Regions from separate parts of the Homo sapiens genome. Here region 1 is linked to region 2. A link means that fine-mapping ties the variant in region 2 to the expression of a gene that starts in the linked region. Tissue or cell type: whole blood. Region 2 holds a variant in brackets; the other region holds the start of a gene. All regions are shown on one strand. Distances are between the middles of the regions.

Evidence for each region.
Region 1: CMIP starts here. The variant in region 2 is fine-mapped to the expression of CMIP in whole blood (INTERVAL, PIP above 0.99).

What each region holds. Positions count from the first base shown.
Region 1 is chr16:81,437,112-81,449,764 of GRCh38, reverse strand. It overlaps CMIP (c-Maf inducing protein), which reads right to left and starts at 4,957. Exons shown (of 21, transcript NM_198390.3): 1 at 4,224-4,957. The coding sequence starts at 4,523. RefSeq lists enhancers at 360-1,123, 1,890-2,653, 2,654-3,419, 5,584-6,116 and silencers at 3,965-4,264, 4,695-4,744, 4,815-5,164, 5,275-5,374.
Region 2 is chr16:81,473,536-81,486,188 of GRCh38, reverse strand. The region is part of intron 1 of CMIP (c-Maf inducing protein); the gene reads right to left. It also overlaps the pseudogene PPIAP51. Among named protein-coding and RNA genes, the nearest start is that of CMIP, 35 kb to the right of the region's middle. RefSeq lists enhancers at 4,945-5,014, 5,045-5,134. The variant G/A (reference allele first, on the strand shown) is at 7,034.

The DNA of each region.
Region 1 (12,653 bases), 36 kb after region 2:
CCTCCACCACCTCCAATCAGACAAGTTGTCTAGGAAACAATTTTGATACACTCCAAAATCCTCCTATGACAAATGGCATGGAAAGGGGGGGGGGGAAATCTGTGTGTTTACTGCCACAAAAAAACATCAAATAAATTAAAGGCAGGCTAGGCACATGGGGGGAAGGGGGGTATGTAACAAAAGTGAAAAAGCAATTAACATGCGTGCATGTGGGCACAGATGAGTTCTCGTGGGATCTGTGACTACCCTGGAGGACATAGATTTTAATTCTTAGGTAGAAACCAAGCCATGTGGATGTGTAACTCTTAGCTCAGCAAGTGACACACAGTAGGCATGCAGTAAGCCTGTGCTAAACAAAGTCCAAGTTCAGAAAACACCAGACTAAAGAAACCAATGAGAATGAAGGTGGCTTCTCCTTTCCCATCCATATCAAGATGCCCAGAAACATTGCAATCAAACAGCAGAGTGGTGAAAATTTAAAAACAAGCCACTGATGAATTATGGCTTGAGAATAAAGAACACTACTGTCACCTGTGCCCCGACCCCTGAATAAAGGACTTTCTGAGTGGATCCACCATTCTGAAATACCGTGTGCCACATTCTCTTAAAAGTAAGATGAAATAAAAGGTAGGCAGCTTATTTGTACTTCTGTGGTGCAGAAGAAACAAAGCCTACAGACAAAGCCCTCTGCCCACGGACAAACATGCCTAGCAGGTGATCAAATTCAACCCACAGACGAGAGCAGCAAAATGGATTCTGGTCCTGCCGAACCCGGCCGCTTATGCAGAACCCCTGGCTGCCCTGGCTGTCATTTACAACCAACACGACCATCACCAGCCATGAAGAGCCAGTGAGGCCCAGGAACTGGGAAGTTTGGGTACAAAGAGGGAATGGGGCACCACATTCAGGCCACAGCCTGGGCAGACAGGCCCTTCCCCACAAAGGTGCAGTCCTGGGTCCCCAAGGGAGGGGGCCCTGGCCTCCCTATCTCCCCTCCCAAGTCAGCTGTCGCCTATCTGCTTCCTCCTTTGTTTACGAGCATTTCGGATCCAAAGTCTCCAAGCACAGGGTGCATCAGACCTGGCGGCCGTCACAAGCCACATTAGGCACGCTGTTGGCTCTGCAAGGATTTAATCAGTAACTGGCCCAGGAGACCAGGGCAGGGCAAGCTGCGACCTGATCCCACAGGAGGCAAAGTTTACAGGCAGGCCAGGCGGGTGAGGCTGCTGGCTCCACCGGTAAGACAGCCTGGAGGGCTATCAGGTCCCTTGGACCCCAGACTAAAAGGTGTACCTAGCCGGTGTCACCCAGCAGGTGGGACTGGGAGCCCGAGTCTGCCTGCATCCCAGCCTGATGCAGATGTGCTCCTGGAAGCACGGTCTTAAATCTCTCAGATTCGGTTAATTGGATCAATGGAAACAGACTGCAAAAGGTTTGGGCAAAAAAGAGTATTTGGCTTGTTTATTGGTTTGAATCCCTATCAATCACTCTGGGTCTTGTTCCTGAAGCCCATACAATTAACCAGATAATTACCAGATGATTCTGAGTTGGGCTGTGTAGATGGCTTAAAATATGGATGACTGATATTTCAAGTAAGGATATGACTCTATAGGAAACATACTTGGAATATCGGGAGCTCAGGGCTGGGCCAGCGGCTGCTGCGAAGCCACAGGACTGCAAAGGGTTTTTGTTCTAGGGAACTGCACTCAAATTCACCTTTGTTTTATTTGGGCTCATATTTCTCAATAGAGTGCTTGGGCCGCACTATAAAACGCAGACAGATTACATAATGTCCAGGCCTCAGGGAAACCCCACAGGGGCTCCGCTGCTTCCCCGAGAGCCTGGACACCAACCAGGTGTCTCATGATGGGACGAGAGCCCTGGTGGCAGTCCCAACCTCACCTCTACCCGGGAGGCCAGCGCTCCAGCCAGGCCAGCCCTCACAGCCCCACCTCCAGGCTCACAGGCCCTGAGGCAAGGCCCCCTGGAGCCCACCAGAGGGCAAGGGTAAGACTTAAGGACACCCCCTGCCTGTAGTGCTTGGTGACGAAAGGCAGCGGAAAGGGGATTATGCCAGTCCATCAAACACTTCCTTATAGTTCCTCTTGCCACATTTCCTAACACCAGAGCATGGCTCTGCCAAGAGAATCTTGCTCCATGGATAAGCCTCAGTCCCCAGTACTAGACAGGTGCTTTCCGGAAAGGCCCACACTACCGATGGTGCCACCTACCTGGGCTGGCCAAGGTGAGCGAGGGGCCTCTGGCTATTCAGGTCTTTCTTCCTTCCCTCTTTCTCTCAGATATACCTCCTGAGCAATCGGAGGTAAGTGGGGAGGCATTAGCCTCGAGAGCTGGCTTTCCGGAAACAGGACGGTAGCAGCGGGACACTCACTCCTGGCTTCTCCCAGAGGGAGAAGGGGCTCCTCCTGGCCTTCCCATGGCAGGTCACTGTTCCTTCTAACCATTTTCCTACCCCACCACCAACAACCCTTCATTTTGTGGAGTGTAAGAGGAAAAAAAAAAAAAAAGCCCAATAAAGTCCCCCTGAGCCAGGTGAAAATTCTGAAGCCAGATCTGGGGTCTCCAGAATCCAGGCAGGGGGCACCGCGGTCACCAGTTCCTCCCCACATCAGAAACACTCCGTACTGGCAAATTTTCGGAGGCTCTCTCCCGCCTCCATCCATTGGAAAGCCAAATGCTGCGGCCTGTGGCGCGGGACGGGCTTGAGAACATGCACCAGCCTGACCGGGGACTGGGCCGCCTCCCCGCGACCAGCAATCCTCCCTGAAAAAGGAGTCTTTGCAGATATTGCACCAACGTGCCCACAGGAAAGAGAAAATAGGTGCTCTAAGCATGTCGGACCCCAAATTAAGAATAAAAGTCCTCGAGGGCTGCAACGCTCTGGGGTGGGGGGTGGGGGACTGGTTCAAAGAGTAGGATTCTTCAGCTAACTTTTCCCCCCTCCCCATTCCTTGGGGCATGTGTCATGGCCTGTGACACACCGCCAAGGGAACATGGATGCCAGGGAAATGTCTACACACGCTACACGTTTGTGACATGCCATGTAAGCGACACCCTATTTCCTGGCTGGGTTTTCTTGGCACAGGTGTGGGCAGGCAGTGGATTCGGCCCCCTCCCACTGCGCTTAGTAAACAGGATCACGGTGGCCCCAGGGAGGAGTGTGCATTCTGGGGAAGACAAGCTACACCCCCAATGAGGATGGGACCCCCACGGCAAGCCTCAGGCCCAAGCCACAGCCGGTATTTGAAACTGTCCTTGTTTCAAAACACAAAGCATCCTGTTCAGGCTCCTACCCGCCACCCCCACTCTCCCCTCGACCCCACCACAGCTGTCTTTCTCCACGTACGAAGAAGGCCACCATTTGCAGATCTGATTTCAGAAACAGATCAATGGTTTTTCCTCTCCGACTCATCCAGCTGACCCAGTCCTACCCATGTATTTAAAAACAATAACAAAATTAAACCTCCAGCAACAAAACACACACGTATACACACACTCTACAGACAATGCCGGACCAGGGCTCCACCAAGCAGCTTCTAGGCTAGAACTCGACCACCGCTGGGTCCTGAGATATTCCAGGACCACTGCCCCCTCCCCCTCCACTTCCAACCTCTCAATGTGCGAATGAGATTTTCAGAAAGGGAAGCACCCCGTTCTGCCTGCCAGCCCTGGCAGGAAAGAGAATAAAGGACGGGTAAACCAAACAGAGAAACTGGCTTCTGGAAATTCTTTGGGTTTGGGGGTTTGGAGGTTTTGTTGTGTTGTTTGTTTTTTTTTTTAAATCTGAGGGGTGGTATTTTGTTTTCCCCTCCCCCACCCCTCAGATCCAGATGGGCCAGGGGCTTCCAGAGAGAACCCCCACCACCATCAGGGCCCAGCGTCGGGTCCATCCTCGAGTCCCAGCCACCAGAAACACAAGAGCTGGGGGCAGAAGGTCCCCAGGCACCCAGCCTGGCGGTGGGCCGAGTCTCCAGCATTTTAAGGGTCTCTCCTGAGCCCGGTCGGCTGGTTTGGGCTTCAGACTCCAAAATCGAGCCCCGCGAGCAGGCCAGGAGCGAGGCGCCCTGGTTCTCCCCGTTCCCCCGGCACCCCCCACCGCCCCCCAGGCCCTGGGCTCCAGGTGCAGCGCCAGGGGGCAGCCAGGGAGGGCGCATCTCGGGCCCCGAGGAGAGGCGGGGGTGCAGCCGCGCAGAGCCACTCACCGTGGCGGACGCCAGGCTGTTGTCGGCCAGCGTTAGGTGGTGCGGCTCCCAGCGCCTCAGGAATTTCGAGGTGAGGATCTTGCTGAGAAAGGTCCGCGGGTGCCGGATGACACAGACCTGAATGTCGCCCTCCTGCAGCAGTTTGTACCTCATCCCGTTGCAAAGCAGAAGAGCCCGGCGGCAGGGCACGGCGCCCATCTTCGTGCCTTCGGGGGCCGACACGTCGCCCCCCAGCAGCGGCTTGGTCTCCTCGATCTGCCGGGGGTCGCCGCCGCCGCCCGAGCTGCTGGTCACATCCATGGCCGCGCCGGGGGAGGGGGCTGGGGGCGGGGAGAGGGGGCTGTCCTGGGCTGCTGGGGCGGCGGGGCCCCCGGATCCGGCGGCCCGCACCCCCCCACCCCCCGGGAAGGTGGGGGGGTGTGGGGCTGGGGGCGCCCGCAGGGGAGGGGGCGCTGCCCGCGGGGGGCGGCGCGTGCGGCGGGCTGGGCCGGCCTCGGCGCTTCCTGCGGGGCTCCGGGCTTCCTCCTAGCTCGTCGGGTGCATGCTCGCGGCGGCTGACCGGGCTCGGCGGGCGACGGGGAGGGGCGGGGGAGGCCGAGGGCGGGCCGGGGCCAGGCGCGGAGGGCGGGCGCCGGGGTGGGGGCGGCGGGGTGGGGGCGGGCGTGTCTCGGGGCCCCGCGCCGCCGCGCGCGTGTGTACAGAGCGTGTGTCCGCGCGGCCGTCCGGGCGAGAGTGGCCGCGGGCGGGGCGGGCCGCGCGCCGGGCTCCCGGAGCCCGGGGCGCCCGCGCGATTGGTCCCCGCAGGGTCATGTGCCCGCCCCTCTGACGTCAATGGCGGCAACGGCGGCGGCCGCGGCGGCTTCGGCCTCTCGCGGGCGGAGTCCGCGGTCCGGGCGGGGTCGCGGCCCACGACGGGGAGGCGCGGCCCGACGGGAGGGGCAGCCCCTGGGGAGGGGGCTGGGGCGGGCGAGCCCCGCGGGGTCCCGGCCCGCCCCGCCTGGAATGTGGGGAGGGGGCGGGGCGCGGGGGCGGGGCGCGTGACGTCACGCCAGCCGCGCCCCCGCGGGTGCCCGGGCGGGAGCCCAGCCAGGCTGCCGGAGCCTGGGGGCCCGCGCCTCACCCACCCCCGCCGCCCCCGGGCCGGACTCGGACGGGTAAAGAAGGATACCCGAGGGCCGGGGGCTGGGTGGAAGGACGGGGACTGGAACCCTCGACCCCTGACGCCCCCTCCGCTGTCCAGGCTGTCCAGCGGGCTGGCCAGATGGGGCCGTGGGACGGGGACGCCTTCCCGACTGAAAGTGTCCCCGCGGTGATCCGGAGGATGAGCCCACCCTGCCCTGTCTCCCACTGCGGGACCCAGCCGGCCTCGAACTCCTGGCCTTTGACGTCTGCTGGCTTTGGCCTTGGGGGTCCTCAAACCTTCTGGAGAGAGGGGACGGTCCGCCCATCCCCCTTCTTTCTTCTGCCCAGGGAGACAGAGCCTCTTCTAGGAACCCACTTAAAGCACCCCCCAACCTACACAGCCACCCCTCTTGTGCGCACCCCAGCAGCTCCCCCTACTTCACCTTCCCTGGGACCCCACCTGGTCATTTTATCTGAGTTCACAGGCCCAGCACCAGCCCACGAGAGAACCATATTCGATTCTCTTGTGACCCAGGGTATCAGGAACTGCAGCCTGGATGCAAAAAGCTCCCTTTCTGCCATCACAAGCAGCCGGCACCTAAGGCCACCTAGCAAATGCTCAGCTCCTCAGCCAGGTTTTCTTATCTCCACGTGCTCCTGCAGCTAATAACGTTAAAACCCTAGATTTTTGCCTTTTTAAGTGAAGGCGCCTCTGTAGTGAACACATGAATGTGTGCAGCGTGTGTTGAACTGCGTCGTGAACACTGCGGAATATCCACAGCATCTGTGCCGTTGGTGGAAATTATTCACCCCCCCTCTCCCAAGAACAGGCAGCATGAAGGTGCTCCCCAGAGGACCCTCTCCCCGAGCCTGGCCAGGGTTTCAGGCAGGGGATGAAAGGCAGGTCCCAGGCTGCATCCCTCACCAAGGAAAGAAGACTCACATCCAGCCTGCCCAGGAGATGCCTCCTTGGGGAGGCACAATTAGATTAGAAAGTTAGAAATTCCTTAGCTCCCCACAATTTGCTGCCATTTCCTTCCAGTTTTGAGCTTGAACAGCCTTGAGAAAACCACCAAGCATGAAGGGGCAAGCCCTAGATATGTGGGTGTTGGGGGGTGGTTGGGGCCAAGAAACCCCCCAGTCCATTAAGCGGGTGGGATTAGATCCTTTGTTCAAATATTTTCATTGAGCTCCTGCTGTATGCTGGTCACAGGCCAGGCACTAGGGTATTAATGGTAATGACTATAATAACCACAGTGGCCAGAGGCTTCCTATGTGCTAAGAATTTTGTACGCACACATCATTCTCTTCTCACACCCTATGACATAGGTGCTGTCCTCATCCTCAACCACAAAGCATGGAGGTCAGAGTCCAGAACAGTAACAGACATTGTGCTTGGTGCTCCAGGAACAGAAAGGGGGATGTCTAACCCAGTGTGGGGGACCAGGGTACTCTAAGAGTTCTTTAGGAATCAAGTAAAGAAGGGGATAGGTGCTCCAAGAAGACGAACTGGCTCCTACCAAGGCAAAGAGATGGGAGGATGCTCAGCTTGTTCAGGAAACTGAACTCACTTGCCATGGGGTGCAAGGTCCCTGGAGGAGGTGGAGCAGAGATGTAGGCGGTGAGCAAGCAGCACCCTGAAATGCAAACCCAGGGACTAGAGCAGTGGGGAGACACCACATGGGCCATGCAAAGGAGTGACTTGTACATGGCTTCTTCAAAAGGCTGCAGTGTGGCACAGATGAGCATTGCAGAGGAGAAACCTAGAGGCAAGGAGGCCAGTGAGGAGACTTTCATGCTCACCTACCCCCCACAGAAGGAAGCAACAAGGGCTAGCACAAAGTCACTGGGTGGAGTGGCCCAGTGGCAAGCAAAGCAGCTGCTGTCCACTTCGGGGACATCTGTGGACACGCCCCTACCCATACAGGGCACAAAACTCCAGTAGAAGGAGGAGATTTAGCAGGATGCAAATCCCTGATATATTCCAGGACCATTCCAGACATCCTCCATGCAGCCCAGTACAGTGGTTGATTTGTAAACATTAAGTAGGACATACCGTGATAATAATGACCGGTACCCAAGCACCAGATACCATGCTGGAGGCCTTATGTATTTGTTCTCGTTTATTCCTCCCCACCAGCCTAGGAGGTAGGAACTATTACCATCCCCATCTTAAGTGAGGAAGTTGAGGCTCAGACAGGGTCAGACAACTATCAGGATCCAGCCGAGGTTTGAACCTCAGATTCTGTTCGACCTCAAATTCCATGTGCTTCCCACTCCTCTGGGAATTTAGGAGGACATTACAAATGTCTGTCTTTGTAATGTTGTCCTGAGCAGGCATTCAGGAAGAAAGTATTGAATTCAATCAGTGTCCTCTTTAAATAGCAGTATTTCTTGAATATAGTTTCAAATCAGTGAAATGGAGCCCCCAAGACACGGCAAAGAAAGTTCCTGAGGGCAGAAGCCAGAAGCGCCTGTCTGGCAACAGCACTAGCTCAGTGCCTGGACAAAGCTGGGGTGCAGCAAATACACAGGGATTGATTGTCAAAAACATACTCCTTGGTGCTTAGCAAAGGTCCAGCCACAGGACTGGGTCAGTAAGTTGCGGGGGATGAGCTGGGATGGCGTTAGTACTCAGTCTGTGACAGTGTGACAGTTGAGTCCACAGCCTCCTAGACTGGGATTTGGCTAACTCATTGCAGAGCCCCTCCACCTTCCACTATCCCAGGCTCCCAACCTAGAAAGGAATCTGAATCCAGCCATCAGATTCCATCAGAGCCCCATCCCTGGAGCTCCCCAAATTATAGGAAACATGAGCCCGTCGAGCTCCCGTGGATGGACCATGTCCCCGAGTTGTGCTCAATGCCCTGGAACTCCAGACCCTCCAAAGAATGGTCCGAGCCCCTAAGAGCCTCCCCTTCCAACACTGAACTTGAGAAGCTTACGGAGTAGCAGGAAGGGCACGGCGGTTCACGCACCCTTCACTCCCCTTGGGCTCTCGCAGGCTCGTTCACTAACCAGAGGCCAGTTCACCAGACAAACCTGTCATTTTCTGCATTCTTTGCTGGCGGTGTCTCCTTGTTTGAGCCAGGTTCCAAAGGATGACGTGTGCCCTCACCTGAACTACCGCTTTCGTTCAACAGCCCACTGTGGGGTCACCCCGGGCCACACTGGTGGAGGACCCACTCGATCAACTCAATGCTAGGAGCTGGGATGCCAAACTGAACAGTAAAGTGCCTTCATGGGCACAGTCTCAACTCGAGTTCTCTGAGGTGTCCCCTGTAGCTAACTCAGAAGGGAAAGACACACCCGCTACCCAGGCTGCCATTAAGGAATTTGATGAGGTGGCAAAGTACCTGTTGGGGAGGAGAGCAGTGGAGCTGAGGGGCAGCCTAGGAGAGGTTGAGCTGAGGCGCCTTCCAGCAGCCACACCTGTAAGTGGATGTTCCCCCTGCTCCCATGAGGGCAGCATTTTATGTGCTATGGATCTGTAGCACCCAGCACCGTCCCCAGCCCTCAAATAGGTGCTAATAAACAGGTGTTTAACGGAATTAAATAAAAGAAAGAATGAATGAAGCGGGCAAAGTAAATGCATAGTGATTTTCGGTTGAATGGCTGGATCTCGCTGCGATGTCAATGTCCTCACCCCTGAGCTACGTGACACTGCTTCATTCATTTTCTTTTATTTGATTCCATTAAACATCTGTTTATTAGCACCTATTTGAGGGCCGGGGACGGTGTTGGGTACTACAGATCCATAGCACACAAAATGCTGCCCTCATGGGAGCTCAGCAACTATTGTCATGGGGGGTCAGCAACTATAGTCAAGGGGCCAGATTCAGCCCATGGACTCCAAAGCCTAAAATATTCACTCTCTGGCCCCTTTTCAGAAAAAGTTTGGCAACCCTTACAATAGACATAAATAACTTCAAGAAGAGAGATACCGGCAAAATGTACTAAAATAATTAGGAAACGATGAGTTGTATTACCTTTTAAAAAATATTATTCATTTAATTGTAACTTTACATAACTTAATCTTTTTTTTAACTGGCTGTTTAACAACCAGCAGTCTCCAGTGGAGATCCACTCCAGCCTCTGCACAGCTCTCTCTCCTTGCCCCACCCCACCATGAAATGGTGCACAAACCCCAATGCACTGCACTGTACCCTCCAAGCGGGCAGGGTTCATTCTGGTTTTGCTCACCACTGTATCCAGGGTCGTGTTCAATAGTCAGCCTGCTGAAAAAAGGAAAGCCTGATCTATAAAGTTTGACAATTTCCCTGGTGCAAATACAACCACCATGGCCAATTATTATACAAGCTACCAACATGTGTCCTTGGACATGGAGTTAGGAAGACATGCACCCCACGGCAGAGTTTCCACCACACAGATACAATACACCAGCAAGGGGCCAGATTCAGCCATGGACTGCAAAGCCTAAAATATTCACTCTCTGGCCCCTTTACAGAAAAAGTTTGGCGACCGCTACAATCGACATAAATAACTTCAAGAAGAGAGATACCGGCAAAATGTAGTAAAATAATTAGGAAGTGATGAGTTGTATTACCTTTTAAAAATATTATTTACTTGTAACTTTACATAACTTAATTTTTTTTACTGGCTGTTTGACAACCAGCTTGCAAAATTTCTGAAAAATTAACAATCAGCTGTCATGAGCCATTACAGATCGGCTTCAGGACACCGCTGCTTGTTTCTCCAGGGCATGTCACAAAGTAAATGCACCATGATTATCTGTTGAATGGCTGGATCTAGCTGAGACGCCAGTGTCCTAACTCCTGAGCTACATTACCCTGCTTCATTCCTTCTTTTATTTGATTCCATTAAACACCTGTTTATTAGCACCGAATTGAGTGGCAGGGACTTTGCCGGATACTGCAGCTCCATCACACATATGATGTTGTCCTCATGGGAGCTCACAGTCATGTGGGAAAGCCAGACGCCCTCACAAAAAATCATCACAACCGCCCCCCAAAAAAGTATACCAAGAAAAAAACAAACTCTCTGCTCTTTTGCTTACCAGCTGTATGTGTCTTTGATTGATTTACCGTCAAGTGGAGTCGTCATAGTACCTTCCTCCCAGGTCGCAGAAATTCAGTGAGATGATCAAGCCGAGCCCAGAGTAAGCACTCACAATAGTGTTAGCTATTTCACATTACCACCGTTATTTTAGAACCCGTATTGGCATGACCGTGGCAACGGGCCTTCCATCCAGACCACCTCTCTGAATCTTTCCCATTCGCCCAGCAACTGGGTATAGACACTCTAGACACAGCATCTCTGCAGGATTGGAAGCAGGGTTTCCAACTTGGGCTCTATTCACATTTGGGATGGATGACACTTTGTGGCAGGCAGCTGTCCTGTGCAGTCTGAGATGTTCTGCAGCATCCCTGGCCTCTACCTGTTGGATGCTAGGAGCATCCGCAAGTCATAACAACCAAAAATTTCTCTGGACCTTGTAGCTGGGACTACAGGCGTCCACCGCCACTCCCGGCTACTTTTTTTTTTTTTTTTTTTTTTTGTATTTTTTAGTAGAGACGGGGTTTCACTGTGTTAGCCAGAACGGTCTTGATCTCCTGACCTCATGATCCGCCCACCTTGGCCTCCCAAAGTGCTGGGATTACAGGCGTGAGCCACCGCGCCCGCCTTTGTCACCTAGGAGGCAAAATCACCCCTGGTTTCAAGGAAGATGTTTATTTCTCCCTCTCAGCTGGCAGAGGATGCTGTGGTGTCAGCCACCTCCTCATCAGTCATCCTGTGGGTCACAGTCTCAGGAGATCATATTGTTCACACTCGTGCCCTGACACGTTCCTCCTCAGATGCCACTTATGGGGTCTAGTAACAAACTGGCTTCTAGCCAACTTTATCAGACCGTCAAGGAACATAGGGCCCCATACAATGGAATGAGATGCAACTTGTATTAAGTCGTGGTTTTGGAGTCCGTTTAATGGCGTGAGGCCGTGTGTGTAATAAAATGTCAGGAACCAAAAGCAGGCAAAAAATTGTTCTTAAGCAATCCCAATTTTGTATCTACCCATGACGCTGTTGCTTTTGGGGGATTCTTTGGAAGTTCCATCTGAAAACTCTGTCTCAAAATTACATCAGCCAGGAGAGCATTCCTGAACCTCATTTATAACAGGAATCAGGTACTAGCGTAAGGGAACAGACACTCCGTACTGATGGCGTTTAATGTGCTGATCAAATAATAAAATGTGCTCATTCTCCCGGTGTAAAAAGAGGAGTCGTGTTTTGTGAAGTTGGTGAACATCCTCCTTCCTCTTCTGGGCTGATGTGAAGCCAGCCCATTCTCTAGCTCCAGCAGTGGGAAGGGAGGAGAGGGGAAGCTGATTCATGTTCAGCCGCCTGTGATGCTGGGGAGCCGAATGATAGCTCCCCACCCTCTCTGCTTACAGGAGACGAGGGAGGGCAACAAGGGAACGTGAAGTGCCAGCCTCTCCCCCTTCCCTTCTCACTGTCACCAAATAAATAAGTCTGGAATCGCTGAGAAAGTACTACAGAGGACTCAGTGCTTTCCTAGAACTAATATTTCTTACAATCGATTGATTGATCGCTTTTCCTACATACACCAAAACAATAGTGGTTATCTCCAGAGAGATGGGATTATGGGCAACCCTTTGTCCTATTTATTTATTTAGAGACAGAGTCTCACTCTGTTGCCCAGGCTGGAGTGCAGTGACGTGATCTCAACTCACTGCAACCTCCACCTCCCAGGTTCAAGCGATTCTCCTGCCTCAGCCTCCCCAATAGCTGGGATTACAGACACCCACCACCACATCCAGCTAGTTTTTGTATTTTTAGTAGAGATGAGGTTTCACCGTGTTGGCCAGACTGGTCTCAAACTCCTGACCTCAAATGATCTACCCGCCTCAGTCTCCCAAACTGCTAGGATTACAGATGTAAGCCACTGCGCCCAGCCTCTTTTCCTTTCGAAATCAATGTTATTTTTGTTTGGTTTGGTTTTGGGGGACTTTTTTGAAACAGTCTTACTCTATTGCCCAGGCTAGTGATATAGCAAAACTCTGTCTGCAGTGGTGCGATCATGGCTCACTTCAGCCTCTACCTCCTGGGCCCAAGCAATCCTCCCACCTCAGCCTCCCAAGTAGCTGGGACCACAGGGGCACACCACCACACCTGGCTAATTTTTTATTTTTTATTTGTGTTTTCATAGAAACAGGGCCTCGATATGTTATCCTGGTTGTACCCAAACTCCTAGACTCAAGCAGTCCTCCCACCTGAGCCTCCCAAAGTGCTGAGATTATAGGTGTGAGC
Region 2 (12,653 bases):
CTCCCTTTCTTCCCCTAAGCCCGTTCATGTGAGTCTGACACACCAGCTCGCTCTGGCCAGCAGGCAATGAACGTGCAAACCAACACGCCAAGAACAGAGTGATGGCCTTGCGTGTGGCCTTTGGGAGCCCCTCTCTGCCTGTCAGGCCGGGTGCCAGGCTCTCACGCCCAACCCCTCAACCCTCCGCAGTAGGTCTGGGAGCTTAGGATCATCGGTCCCATGACACACTCACAGCGCCTGAGTGACTCATTCGGGGAAGTGGCAGAATCCAGGGGAGAGCTGGGTACTCCCACCTCTACAGTATGGTGGTCCAAGCAGGCCACGTGGTGCCACCCCAGCTCTATCATTCATTAGCAATACCACCTCCAGCAAGCTCTTTCGCCTCAGCTTCCCCTTCTGCATTTGGGAATAAGACTACCTATTTCACCAGGTTGTTCCCTGTCTATGAAAAATTGTACTCACATAACTAAATAACACCTAAAATTCTCAAAAAAGGATCTGGCATATTATAAGTGCTCAGTTAATGTTAGCTCTTACTGTTATTTCCACGGGCTGCGTAAACATACAGCTAAATAAATAGGCCATCAGTTCCCACTGAGTCGGGAGGGACATCAGAAGGGCTGTGGTAAGAAATTACCTCCAGTCTTCCGAATGGGAATTCTCCACCCAGGCCACACTGTAGAATCACCTGGGGAGTGTCTACAAGCTGGGACGTCCAGCAGTCCACAGGCACAGCTGGTTTGCATTTTCATGAACCAGAACCACTTGCAGTATTATCAGCTTTCCACAATTAGAGTTGTAAAATAGCTCAAAGAAAACAAAAGGTAGAAATAGCTCGGATGAGTGAGCTAGACAACACACCCAGGAATCTTTCTCCACCCATTTCAAAGTCGTTCGCAGTATTTCTTGACAGATATGAGCTCACAAGGAGATGGATGGAGAACATATTATACTAGGAAAATTTAGGAACAACTTAAATGTCCATCAACAGGAAAGTAGCTTAATACATTCTGGTATACATACGCAATAGAATACTCCACAGCTATTCAAGCAAATGATGTCGGAATAAAAAATAAGACGTCTGAGCCCCATACACAGCAAATGAATCTCAACCTCTGGGGGTGGAGTCAGGCATCAGGACATTTTTTAAGCTCCTCAAGTAATTCCAATGCGCAGCTCAAGTTGGAAACTGCTGCTCTAAACTCGCCCAAGAAAGCCTTGGACAGAAAAAAAAAGAGGTTTTCAGGGGTAGGAGGAGGAAGGCAGGAGGGGAGGGAGGGAAAGAGGCAGGGAAGAGGGTATATCTGAGCAGACCCCACTCCTAGGAAGGGGATAAGGACAGAGGAATAAGGAAGCCAAGAGTTAAATGAATGAGGACACCCGGGCAGGCAAAGATCAAAGGTAGAGTGAACCCCACACTCGTTTCAGAAGCCCACCTGGCATCTTCCAGCCCCATCCAGAGCACGCCGAGTACTGGATGCGCACAATGTTTCCATCGCTTAGCGTCTACAGGAGTCCCATCAATGGCCTTAAACTAGCCGGGTCTGTGCGCACCAACTGCAGCAGAGAGCCGGAGATGATTACCCAATGACCCCACTACAAAAACCCACTCCTGCCTCAAGTCCCCCACCCTCGTGGCCCAAGGGGGAAGAGGAGATGCTTGTACTGGGCGGGGAGGTTGGTTTTGCAGCCAGGTGATCGTTCTCCACCAGAGTCAAAATGGAGCCCAACCTGCAACACCCTGCGTTCGGCGCCCAACCCGTCTACCCTTCGTCGGGGAGACGGGTTGCCATGGCAGCCACACATCCCAAACCTCGGCCAGAGCCAGGGCTTTCTGAGCTGCACCAGGCCTCCTTCACAGGCGGTTTTGGCTTCCCGTGCCTCCCAGAACTCTTCCTCGAGCTGGCAAGTGGAACTCCACCCAGCTGCTGTGGCCTTTTCACCAAATCTGACTTTGCCAGAAGGAATGGGAACGGGCGAGGTCCGCCAGGGAAGGGCGACTTCCACCTGGTGGGCCCCTGAGCTGACCTGGAGTTGGTGGAAAAAGATGATGGCCAAGGACCTGAAACTATCTCGGTGACTTGGCAAAAACGCTATCTGGTTTGTCCGCCAATGAATCTCACATCTCGCAGAAACCCCAAGACACAGTAGGTGTTTAACAAATATTAACTAATTTATTAAGCTTGAAATGATTACATACAGGATTGAACTAAACTGGATGCCACCTTACACAAGTTCCCAGTTTATGACAAAATATGTTGGGTGGAAAACATAAAATGCAGACAATTCCATCCCCTTAATTTCAGTCCTTTGATTTGGATAAAGATCGCCACTATCTGCCTGGACAGATAACATGCTGCAGGACGGGTTGCGAAATTCTAGAAGCAGAGTTTATAAACCACTGTGCTATATAAATAGCAAAAGCCATAAGTGACCAACACTGAGGATAGCTGGAGGAGGGGATGGCCGAGAAAGGTCCCCAGACTGGACTGTGGGCAAGGCTGCTACTCCAGGCAGCAGGCCTCAATGGGCCCAATCAATCCCCACAAAACAGTGGGCAGCTGGGGGAGGGTCAGGGAGAGGGAGAGGAAGAGGAAGAGGAAGAGGAAGAGGAAGAGGAAGAGGCTGCGGGAGGGAGAGAGGCAAGCCAGGAGGCACTTCGGTCTTCAGAGCTGCCACTTTCCTGAATGTATTAGAGCAGACACAGCTCTCTCCTCTCCCTCAGAGTTAACGGCCAAAGTTCTTACAAGGCCCTACACCATCTGACCCCACTAGTGACTCACAGAGCTCACCTCCTGCCACCCTCCTCAAGGCACATTCTGCTCCATCCACATTTACCTCCTTGCATTCCTAGAAAAAAAACCAGGTAAATTGCTGCCCCAGGGCCTTTGCACATGCTGTGGATGGCTCCTTTACCTCCTTTAGCCGCTGCCCCATGGCCTTTGCACATGCACAGCTTCCTCCCTTACCTTTTCCAAACCTGCTCAAGTGTCACCTCTCATCCAGATTTTCTTTGGTCACCCTATTCCAAAGGCCACCACACACAGACGCCACACCCTCCCCATTCATACCAATACTTCTGTCCTCCCTCGTCTGATGGTTTCCTCCACAGCACTTAGTGGCAGCAGACAAGATTCTATATTTCCGTGTTCATTTTCCTCTCCTCCAGTAGAATGGGGGCTCCAAGTAGGCCAGGATGATGCCTGCTTTGCTCCGTGCCTGCAATGGTGCCTGGTGCACAGTGGACGCGCCACCGCCATCTGCTGAACGGACGAGCAAGCAGGCATGCCTGTGCACCAACAGCGTCCCATGACCTGCCTCGCTGACCCCAGGGCTGACCCTGTGAGTCAGGCCCTATCTCACCCCCATTTTACAGTTGGGAACGGGCTCAGCTTAGGATGTGGTGGAGTTTGGATTCAAACCCAGCCCCAGTGACTCCGAAGCCCGGGTTTGTCACCTTCTCCAGCAATGGGAAGATGCAGCCTGCATTTCCTGCCCAAAGCACATTATGCTCCTAGCTCTCCCTCTTCCTGTCACTGTGAAAGGGAAGCTCCTAGGTGGGGGAGGGGCAGGGGCTTCCCCAACACACACCGTCCTCCTGGGACACGCATGTCCACCAGGCTCAAGTGGGAACAGAGGTCCTCTCTCCAGAAGCTACTTAGCAGGTGACCAACTCCCAGTCTGCCCCATGACTTAAAAGGCCCTCTGCTGTCTCACCCTCCCCTCCAGGAGCTCCTCCTCCAGGTACTTAGGCGCCCAGCACCCCTCCAAAGCCAAGCACCCACTCACCTCCAGGCCTTAGATTGCCTGCCCACCAGCCTCACTCTCCCCTGCTATGATAGGCACAATAATGGCCCTAATCATCCTACTCCCTTCAACCTGTGACTATGTGGCCTGACATGGCAAAGGGACCCTTAGAGTTGCTTAAGCTGAGGATCTTGAGACGGAAGGTGCCCCTGAATGATCTGGTGAGCCCAGTGTAACCACAGGGTCCTTATAAGAGGCGGCAGGGACAGGCCCGGTAGCTCATGCCTATAATCCCAGCACTTTGGGAGGCCAAGGAGGGTGGATCACTTGCGGTCAGTAGTTCGAAACCACCCTGGCCAACATGGTGAAACGCTGTCTCTGCTAAAAATACAAAAATTAGCTAGGTGTGGTGGCGCACACCTATAATCCCAGCTACTCAGGAGGCTGAGGCACAAGAATCACCTGAACCCGGGAGGCAGAGGTTGCAGTGAGCCAAGATTGCGCCACTGCACTCCAGCCTGGGTGACAGAGTGAGACCCCCTCTCAAAAAAAAAAAAAAAAGAGGGAGGCGGGAGGGCCAGAGCCAGAGGAGATGTGAAGACTGAAGCAGAGGTTGGAGTGATGCTGCCACGAGGGAAGGAATGCGAGCAGCCTCTAGATAATGGAAAAGGCAACAGACCCTTCCCTTAGGCTTCCAGAAAGACAACACCTCAACTTTAGCCCCTACGAGACTCACTGTGGACTTCTGACCTCCAGAACTGTAAGATAATAACTTTGTGTTGCTTTAAGCCACAAAGCCTGTGGTCATTTGTCATAGCAGCCACAGGAAACTAGTGTACCCATCCCCCCAAGACCTCAGTTGAAACAGCACCCTCTGGGAGCCGCTCTGGCCCTGGCATGGCCCCATCCCACGCAGATGCTCCCTGGACTTCCTCTTTCATAATTATCTGTCAGTGTTACTTAGTCAAGCTCTGAAGCCATCAGCTCACATTCAATTTCAGTCTCCGCTTCTCACAAGCTGTGTAACGTTGGGAAAGCTTCTCAGCCTTCCTGAGCGGCCCTGTCCTCATCTGTTACACACAGTCGCTCAAGGCCCTCACCTGTACACCTGCCATGAGGCTGGAATGAGGGAGCTCATGCAGAGACAGGGCCCGGCACACCCAGATGAGGGTGACACAACAATCCGTACCACCTGCCAGACCATGAGGATAATGGAGACTGTGCCTGTCTCATCACCGCATATTCCTAAGAGCCCCAGACGGCGCCCAGCTATCAGGTCTCAACAATATTTGTTGAATAAATCATGAGTCCCACAGCCATCAAAAATCTCAAACGCAAATAGGAGGGACAAACCATGTGCAGCTGAGGGAGACAGCCGGGCCAAAGCCCTGAGGTGTGCACAGCTTCTCCAGCTCCATTCAATGGCCCACCACTAGTTCAAACTGGGCAGAGCAGCTCTCACCGATGTCAAAGCCATCCCGTGAAAACACTGCATTCAGCCTCAACTTTGGACCCCACCCTGACATCACACACAGGCTTCTTTCCCACTCTGCTTCAGCTGAGGTCCCCACCAGGAGGGCCAAGGGGAGACTCCCTCCATGATAAGTGAGGCAAACCACCCCCGTCCTTTCCCAACAATGTTGGGGAAACTGATGTCATCATAACAGTCCCCTTGCACAAGGTGGCTGTAAAGGTAAAATGAGAGAACGTGAATCAGTGCCTGGCATACAGCTGGCACCCCATAAATCCCAATTAGATAGTTTTTAATTATTTTACCCCATAGCAAACACATAAGTAGCAACAGGTGCCCCTTCCAAAATCACCTGCAAAACAACAGAGGGAGGCTGGAGCAGCAGAATGGGTCAGGGCTTTGGACTCAGGTGGAGATTTTATTATTATTTTTTGATACAGTCTCACTCTGTCGCCCAGGCTGAAGTGCAGTGGCACGATCTTGGCTCACTGCAGCCTCTGCCTCTCGGGTTCAAGCGATTCTCATGCCTCAGCCTCCTGAGTAGCTAGGATTACAGGTGTGTGTCACCACGCCTGGCTAATTTTTATATTTTTAGTAGAGATGGGGTTTCACCACGCTAGCCAGGCTGGTCTCAAACTCCTGACCTCAGGTGATCTGCCCACCTCGGCCTCCCAAAGTGCTGGGATTACAGGCGTGAGCCACCACGCCTGGCCTCAGATGGAGATTTGAAGCTGAGAGAGCTTGGGTAAGTTACCTGACCTCTATAACCTGTTTCCCTATCCACAAAATGGAGATAATATTACCTACCCCAAAGGACTGCTATGACCCAAGGAAATACTGCCTACCACTCACTCTCATGTTAGAATCGCTCGGAAAAGGCTATGGCCCAGACCTCCCCCAGACCAAAGCCATCAGCGTCTCTGGGGTGGGGCCTGGGTTTTGGGGGTTACGAAGATCCCCAGGTGATCCCATTGTGCGGCCAGGGCTGAGAACCACACATGCTTATGTGGACCTGGCACAAAGTAGGCACTCAAGAAATCCAAGCTTTCATCATTATTTCTCAGCTGGCCAGGATTTTCTTTCATTCATTCAGCATACATTTGTAGAGGGCCTAATATATGCAAATGCAAATCAAATTTAAAGTCATATGTTGGTTTTCAAGAGCCGGGGGTAGGGGGAAAGAGGAGTGACTGTTAACGGGTACAGGATTTCCTTCTGGGGTGACGATGTTTTGGAACTAGACAGAGGTGGTAGTGGCTAAATATCACTGAATTCTTCACTTTAAAATGGTTGATTTTATGTTATGTAAATCTCACCTCAACAAAAAAAGCAAAATAATAATAATCATAACCCAGACACGAAAAAGACAAATCCTATATTAACCCATTCATATGTGGTCCCTAAAGGAGTCAAAGTCATAGAAAATGAAGAGAGAATGGTGGCTGCCAGGGGCTGGGGGAGGGGGACTAGGAGTTAACATTTAATGGGGACAGTTTCAGTTTGAGAAGATGAGAAAGTTCTGGAGATGGATGGGGGTGATGGTTGTGCAACAATGTGAACGTACTCAATGAACTGCACACTTAAAACTGGTTAAAATGGCCCATTTTATGTTACGTGTATTTTATCACCATTTAAAAAAAGGTCACATGCTGACAGTCCCTCAAGACATTCATTGCCCACCTCAGCTACCTGTAGCCCCCACCTCCTTACCATAGGAGATGACATCTTCCCAGTTTTTCCAGGCGAGCAACTTCGAGTAGCTGACCGCCCTCTTTACAAACAGGATGGAGGCTACGCATGTGTTTTCTCTGTGGG[G/A]CAAGGCCAGATTAAGCAAAGAAAACACAGCAGCTCCTTCCCCCTCCCCCCAGGAAAAACCCTGTCCGGTCAATAGCAGAACTAAAGAGCTGGTGCACACTTTCACTTCCCACTCGAGTGCCTGAGGACCCGGCTTCTCCTAGGCGTCCAGCAAAGCCCAGACTTAAAGGTGGCAGGTGCTGTCCTCTCACCCTGCTTCGGGTGAGGACGGGTCTCCAACTGAGCTCCAATGAACAAGACGAGGCTGGGCTGGCTCCAGGAGGCAATTTCTGGCTGGGAGGTGGGGAAGAAAGACCCAGAAGAAGGGCAGGGTGTGACAGAGGGACCTGAATCCCAGAGCCCTGGGTCTCCTGCTCCCCTCCCTGAGTGCCTCTGGATATGGCGCTTCCAGGCTGGCCCTCAACGTCCACACCTATAGGAACAAGAGAACTGAATTCAAGTGGGAAAAGCAAATGGGTTTATCTCAGGTGCCAACTTCTTCCCACCGGGAGGCTCTGGGGTGGCTGCGGCTCTGCAGGGCACCAGGAGGACCAACAAGGGCTGGAGGGTGGAGGGGACCACACATGGTCTGTGCATTCACCATCCCTGCATGAGATCCCTTCCATAATTCCTCAATGGAATTCCATGAATGTGCTTTCTGGATCTAGAACGCACTCGGTGGCCTCCCTGACTGACACATGTCCATCTGACCTTTGCTTGCACACCTGCTTTCTCAGGGAGCTCACTATCTTCTCCGGCAGGCTGCTCCTCTCCATACAGGACGCCAAAATCTCGGCCCTACAACCCCTTCCCAGGAGCTGCTGGCGCCATGCAGAACTGTCGGCTCCCTGTTCTACTCTACGGCTTGCTGATACCTTACCACTCCCTCTGCCCCTGTAAAAGCCTTGCTTCCTTCCACTGTGCTACATGTGAGTGGCTTTCAAAGGATGGCCTGTTCCGGAAGCTTGAGGGAATGCCCACGCAATGTGTCTCCCTGACCAGCCTTCGCCTTCCCAAGAGTGAAGTGGAGACTGGCCCTGGGATACTTTCTGGGGTGGGGGGGAAGGGCAGTGGCAGAGATGGCTAGCGTGGCCCATGCCAACACCCTATTCTGGCCTCCTCTCCCTTCTCAATAATAAAAATCCTGCTGTGGGGTGGGATTCATGGCTCCCACTTACATTTCCCAGATGCTCTTGCAGCCGGGGATGCCACATGATGGTCTGGCCAGTAAGGTGAAAGCAGAAGTCACCTTAACAGGGCAGAAGTCCTTTTCCACTCCCCTGCCACTCCCACTTTCTGCTAACTGGAATGCAAACGAAATGGTAAGATCCCATTTCCCACTAACTGGAAGGCAGGCAAAATGGCAGGAACTTGAGCCTCTCTTGGCCCATGGTGCTAAGAACGGAGGAGCAGCCACATGGAGGGGCCCTAGGCCCTCAAAGCCACAGGCCAGCCACGGCAACCCTCACACGACTTAGACCCTAGATTTCCTTTATACGAGAGAAAACAAACAAGCTTCTGCTGTGTTTAAGCTGCTGCATTTTTAAATATTATATGATCCCGGAGTCTTACATGCAGGAGCAAGGAGTTCTGAGTGCTGATGACGACAGTCCAGCCGCCTTCACACAGGGAGGGCAGCCATTGCCTTCAGTGGGAAAGGAGGGGACCTGGATGCACAGTCCATACCCTGCCCTGTATCTACCCCTTAAGAATTCAGGCTAGGTGCGGTGGCTCACGCCTGTAATCCCAGCACTTTGGGAGGCCAAGGCAGGCAGATCAACTGAGGCCAGGAGTTCGAGACGAGCCTGGCCAACATGGTGAAACCCTGTCTCTACTAAAAATATAAAAATTAGCCAGGCGTGGGTGTGGTGGTGTAAGCTTGTAATCCCCGCTACTCAGGAAGCTGGGACAGGAAATTACTTGAACCCAGGAGGCTGAGGTTGCAGTGAGCCGAGACCACACCACTGCACTCCAGCCTGGGCAACACAGCAAGATTCCATTTCAAAAAAAAAGAGTTCAGGGCCGACATTTCCAAGCCCGATGTGTATCTTCAAAATCAGAAGATAGACACAACCAGCTGCCATTTTTCAAGCATCAACCATATGCCCAGGTGCTCAGCTCAACGCGGCATGAATTAGCCCCACGAGATAAAAATGGTCCTACTATAGATGAAGCCCAAAGAGGTCCACCAAGTTGAGGCTGAAACCCAGGAGCCCTGACCTCCACGCTGGGGCTGGGGTCTTTTCATTCATCTTCACCGTCTCCTAAAGATCCTTAGGGAGCCTGAGAAGCTGAACTTGGCTGACGTCGGGAAGTAAGGACAAAAGGAAAGAAGGGGTGGGAGGGAGAAGAAACAGGAAATGGGAGAAACTCTTGGATTCCTGTAAATGGAGATTATCTATGAAGATGTTCACTGTGGCATTGTTTACAGCAGCAAAAATCTAGAAGCAATCTAGAAGACCATCAACAGAATGCATAAATAAATATGCCACGGCTTCTTCATACAATGGATCTCATATACAGAAAGTAAGCAAACTAAAAAGGCAAGTTGCACAAGAAGGCCCAAGTAATGATACTATTTATATGAAACTTTACAATCTAGGAAACATGGCCACTCTGCAGACACCGGCGCCGTCGGGAAACCTGTTCTATCAGCCATGGTCAACCCCACTGTGTTCTCTGACATCGCTGTCAACGGCGAGCCCTTGGGCCGCATCTCCTTCGAGCTGTTTGCAAACAAGTTTCCAAAGACAGCAGAAAACTTTCACGCTCTGAGCACTGGAGAGAAAGGAGTTGGTTATAAGGGTTCCTGCTTTCACAGGAACATTCCAGGGTTTATGTATCAGGGTGGTGACTTCACACGCCGTAATGGCACTGGTGGCAAGTCCATCTATGGGGAGAAATTTGAAGATGAGAACTTCATCCTAAAGCATACAGGTCCCGGCATCTTGTCCATGGCAAATGCTGGACCCAACACAAACGGTTCCCAGTTTTCCACACGCACTGCCAAGACTGAGTGGTTGAACGCAAGCACGTGGTCTCCGGCAAGGTGAAAGAAGACGTGAAGACTGTGGAGGCCATGGAGCACTTTGGGTCCAGGAATGGCAAGACCAGCAAGAAGATCACTATTGCTAACTGTGGACAACTTGAATAAAGTTTGACTTATGTTTTATCTTTTTTTTTTTTTTTTGAGAAGGAGTCTCACTCTGTCACCCACGCTGGAGCGCAGTGGAGCAATCTCAGCTCACTGCAAGCTCTGCCTCCCGGGTTCATGCCATTCTCCTGCCTCAGCCTCCCAAGTAGCTGAGACTACAGGCGCCCCCCACCACACCCAGCTAATTTTGTTTGTATTTTTAGTAGAGACAGGATTTCACCGTGTTAGCCAGGATGGTCCTGATCTCCTGACCTCATGATCCACCTGCCTCAACCTCCCAAAGTGCTGGGATTACGGCAGTGAGCCACCACACCCAGCAACTTGTGTTTTATCTTAACCATCAGACCGTTCCTTCTGTAGCTCAGGAGAGCACCCCTCTGCCCCATTTGCTCACAGTATCCTAGAATCTTTGTGCTCTCACTGCAGTTTCCTTTGGGTTCCATGTTTTGTTCCCTTCCATGCCTAGCTGGATTGCAGAGTTGAGTTAAGTTTATGATTGTGAAATAAAAGCTATATAATAACAAAAAAAAAATCTAGGAAACATTATGGAGTGTTCTATAAGAGTATGTAGTTGTACAAGTACAAAAATATGCACAAGAATAAACATCAAAGTCGGGGCAGAGAAAAGGAAGGGTTTGAAATCAGAGAACGGTACATCAGGTATTGCAACTGGAATGGTTTATTTCTTCCGCTGAGTGGTTACACTGAAATATTATTTTATACCCTGCTTTGCATGGCTGAAACAGATCATCATTTTAAAAGCAAAGGGAGAATATGCAGTTTATTGCATGTCAACTTTATCTGAAAGCAATTTTTTTTATGCACCTAGAGAGAAAGAGACAGAGAGAGAAAGAGACAGGAGGGAGGGAGGGAGAGAAGGGAGGAAAGGGTTAAGGCCTCCAGACACAGCATCTTCTCCTCATGGCCCACCCTCCTCTCCAGAGGGCCAGCCATGCTGACCACAGCAGCTCCATTCATGAAGCCACAAGGCCACGGTGAAGAGGGCCACTTAAACTCCATGTTGCTGAAGGCTCCTTAAGTGAAGTGACATCCCAAACCTTCCAAAATGAGTTACCCTCAGGCCTGGCCACCCCCAGAACCACATTCAGTCCACCAGCAGTTCTGCAAAGACAAGCACTGGTCGACTCCCTCCCCGCCCGCCCCCCATGGCTGGAGGCAGGGCAGCCAGGCTGGCAGGGCCTAGGCACAGAGACTGTCCTGGGCTGGCTCCCCTGGCACCAAGGAGGCAGGAAGGGCGTGCAGGAGAGGCAGGACCAGAGGAGAGGGAGCCCCAGGAGGAGGGCGCCATGAGCACGGCCAACACTGAGGCCCCTCCGCAGGCGGACAGTGGTTCCTCCACTTCCCCCATCATTCCCCTTCCACAGAAGTGCGGTGACACGGAAGAGACCACACAGTAAGAAGACACCAGGGGCTGGGGCTCCCTGCTCCTCTGACCTGACTCAGTTCACCCCTGGGATCCTCACGCAGCACCTCCCACCAGAGGTGTGGTCTGAAGGTAGGGAGAAGCCACCATGAACCCCTCACATGAAGCAGAAGTAGTGTGCGACGTGCCTACCTGGTGGCCCCCGGTAAGCACCAGATGAATGGGAGGAAGGGAGTGAAGGAAAGAGAGAGCGGAGAAAGGAAGGGGGAAGGGAGGAATGGAAAAAGAGGGTGCAGGAGAAAGAAGGGGGAAAGAGAAGAATGGAGACAGTAGGGAGAGAGGGAGGGAGGGTAAGTCAGTGACAGACAACTCAACTTAAGGAGCAGCAGCTGGACTCCCACAGTCACCTTGCCCTCTCCAAGCCCGGGGGGTACAAAGTCCACGCCCACAAGCTCTGAGCAGGGGGGAACCTGAGTACAGTGGGCTAGGAGGCTGGGGGAGTGGAGAGGCCGTGCCCAGCCTGAAGGGGTGGCCACACAGGAACATGGGCACAGCCAGGAGTGCCCGGTTAAAGGCCTGCCTCTGCTTCTTTAGCTGTAGAATGGGGATGATCACAGGAAGCACCACCTCGGAACTGTCTGGGGATCCCAGGAGCAAAGGGATGGGAGTCGTCTAGAGCTGAGCCAGGCCTGTGGTAAGTCACATAGAAATGTTTGCTTCTGTTGTTATTATTAGAAAATGGATATCCGGAACTTTTTAGGGGAATGCTCCCAACTTTAAAGGCAGACAACTTACTGAAGCTTTAAGAAAAAAAAAAAAAAAAAAAACCACTGTGTGGGCCAAGTAAAACACGTCAGCAGACTTGACTTGGCCCATGGGTCATCCGCTTGCAGCTTCTGCTCAATGCGTCCCTGCGTCCCCGCGTCCCCCAAAGGCAGGCCCAAGTCCTACAGGGGTCGAAAATCATGAGTGAGATTTGAGATCACCCCATTCCAACACAAGCGTCCAAGCCCATGAATCCCTTAATGGGAAATAAATATTTAAGTCAACCCCCGCCCAACTCCCACACCAAAAGGACAGGAACTGCTAATTCTTACCCACTA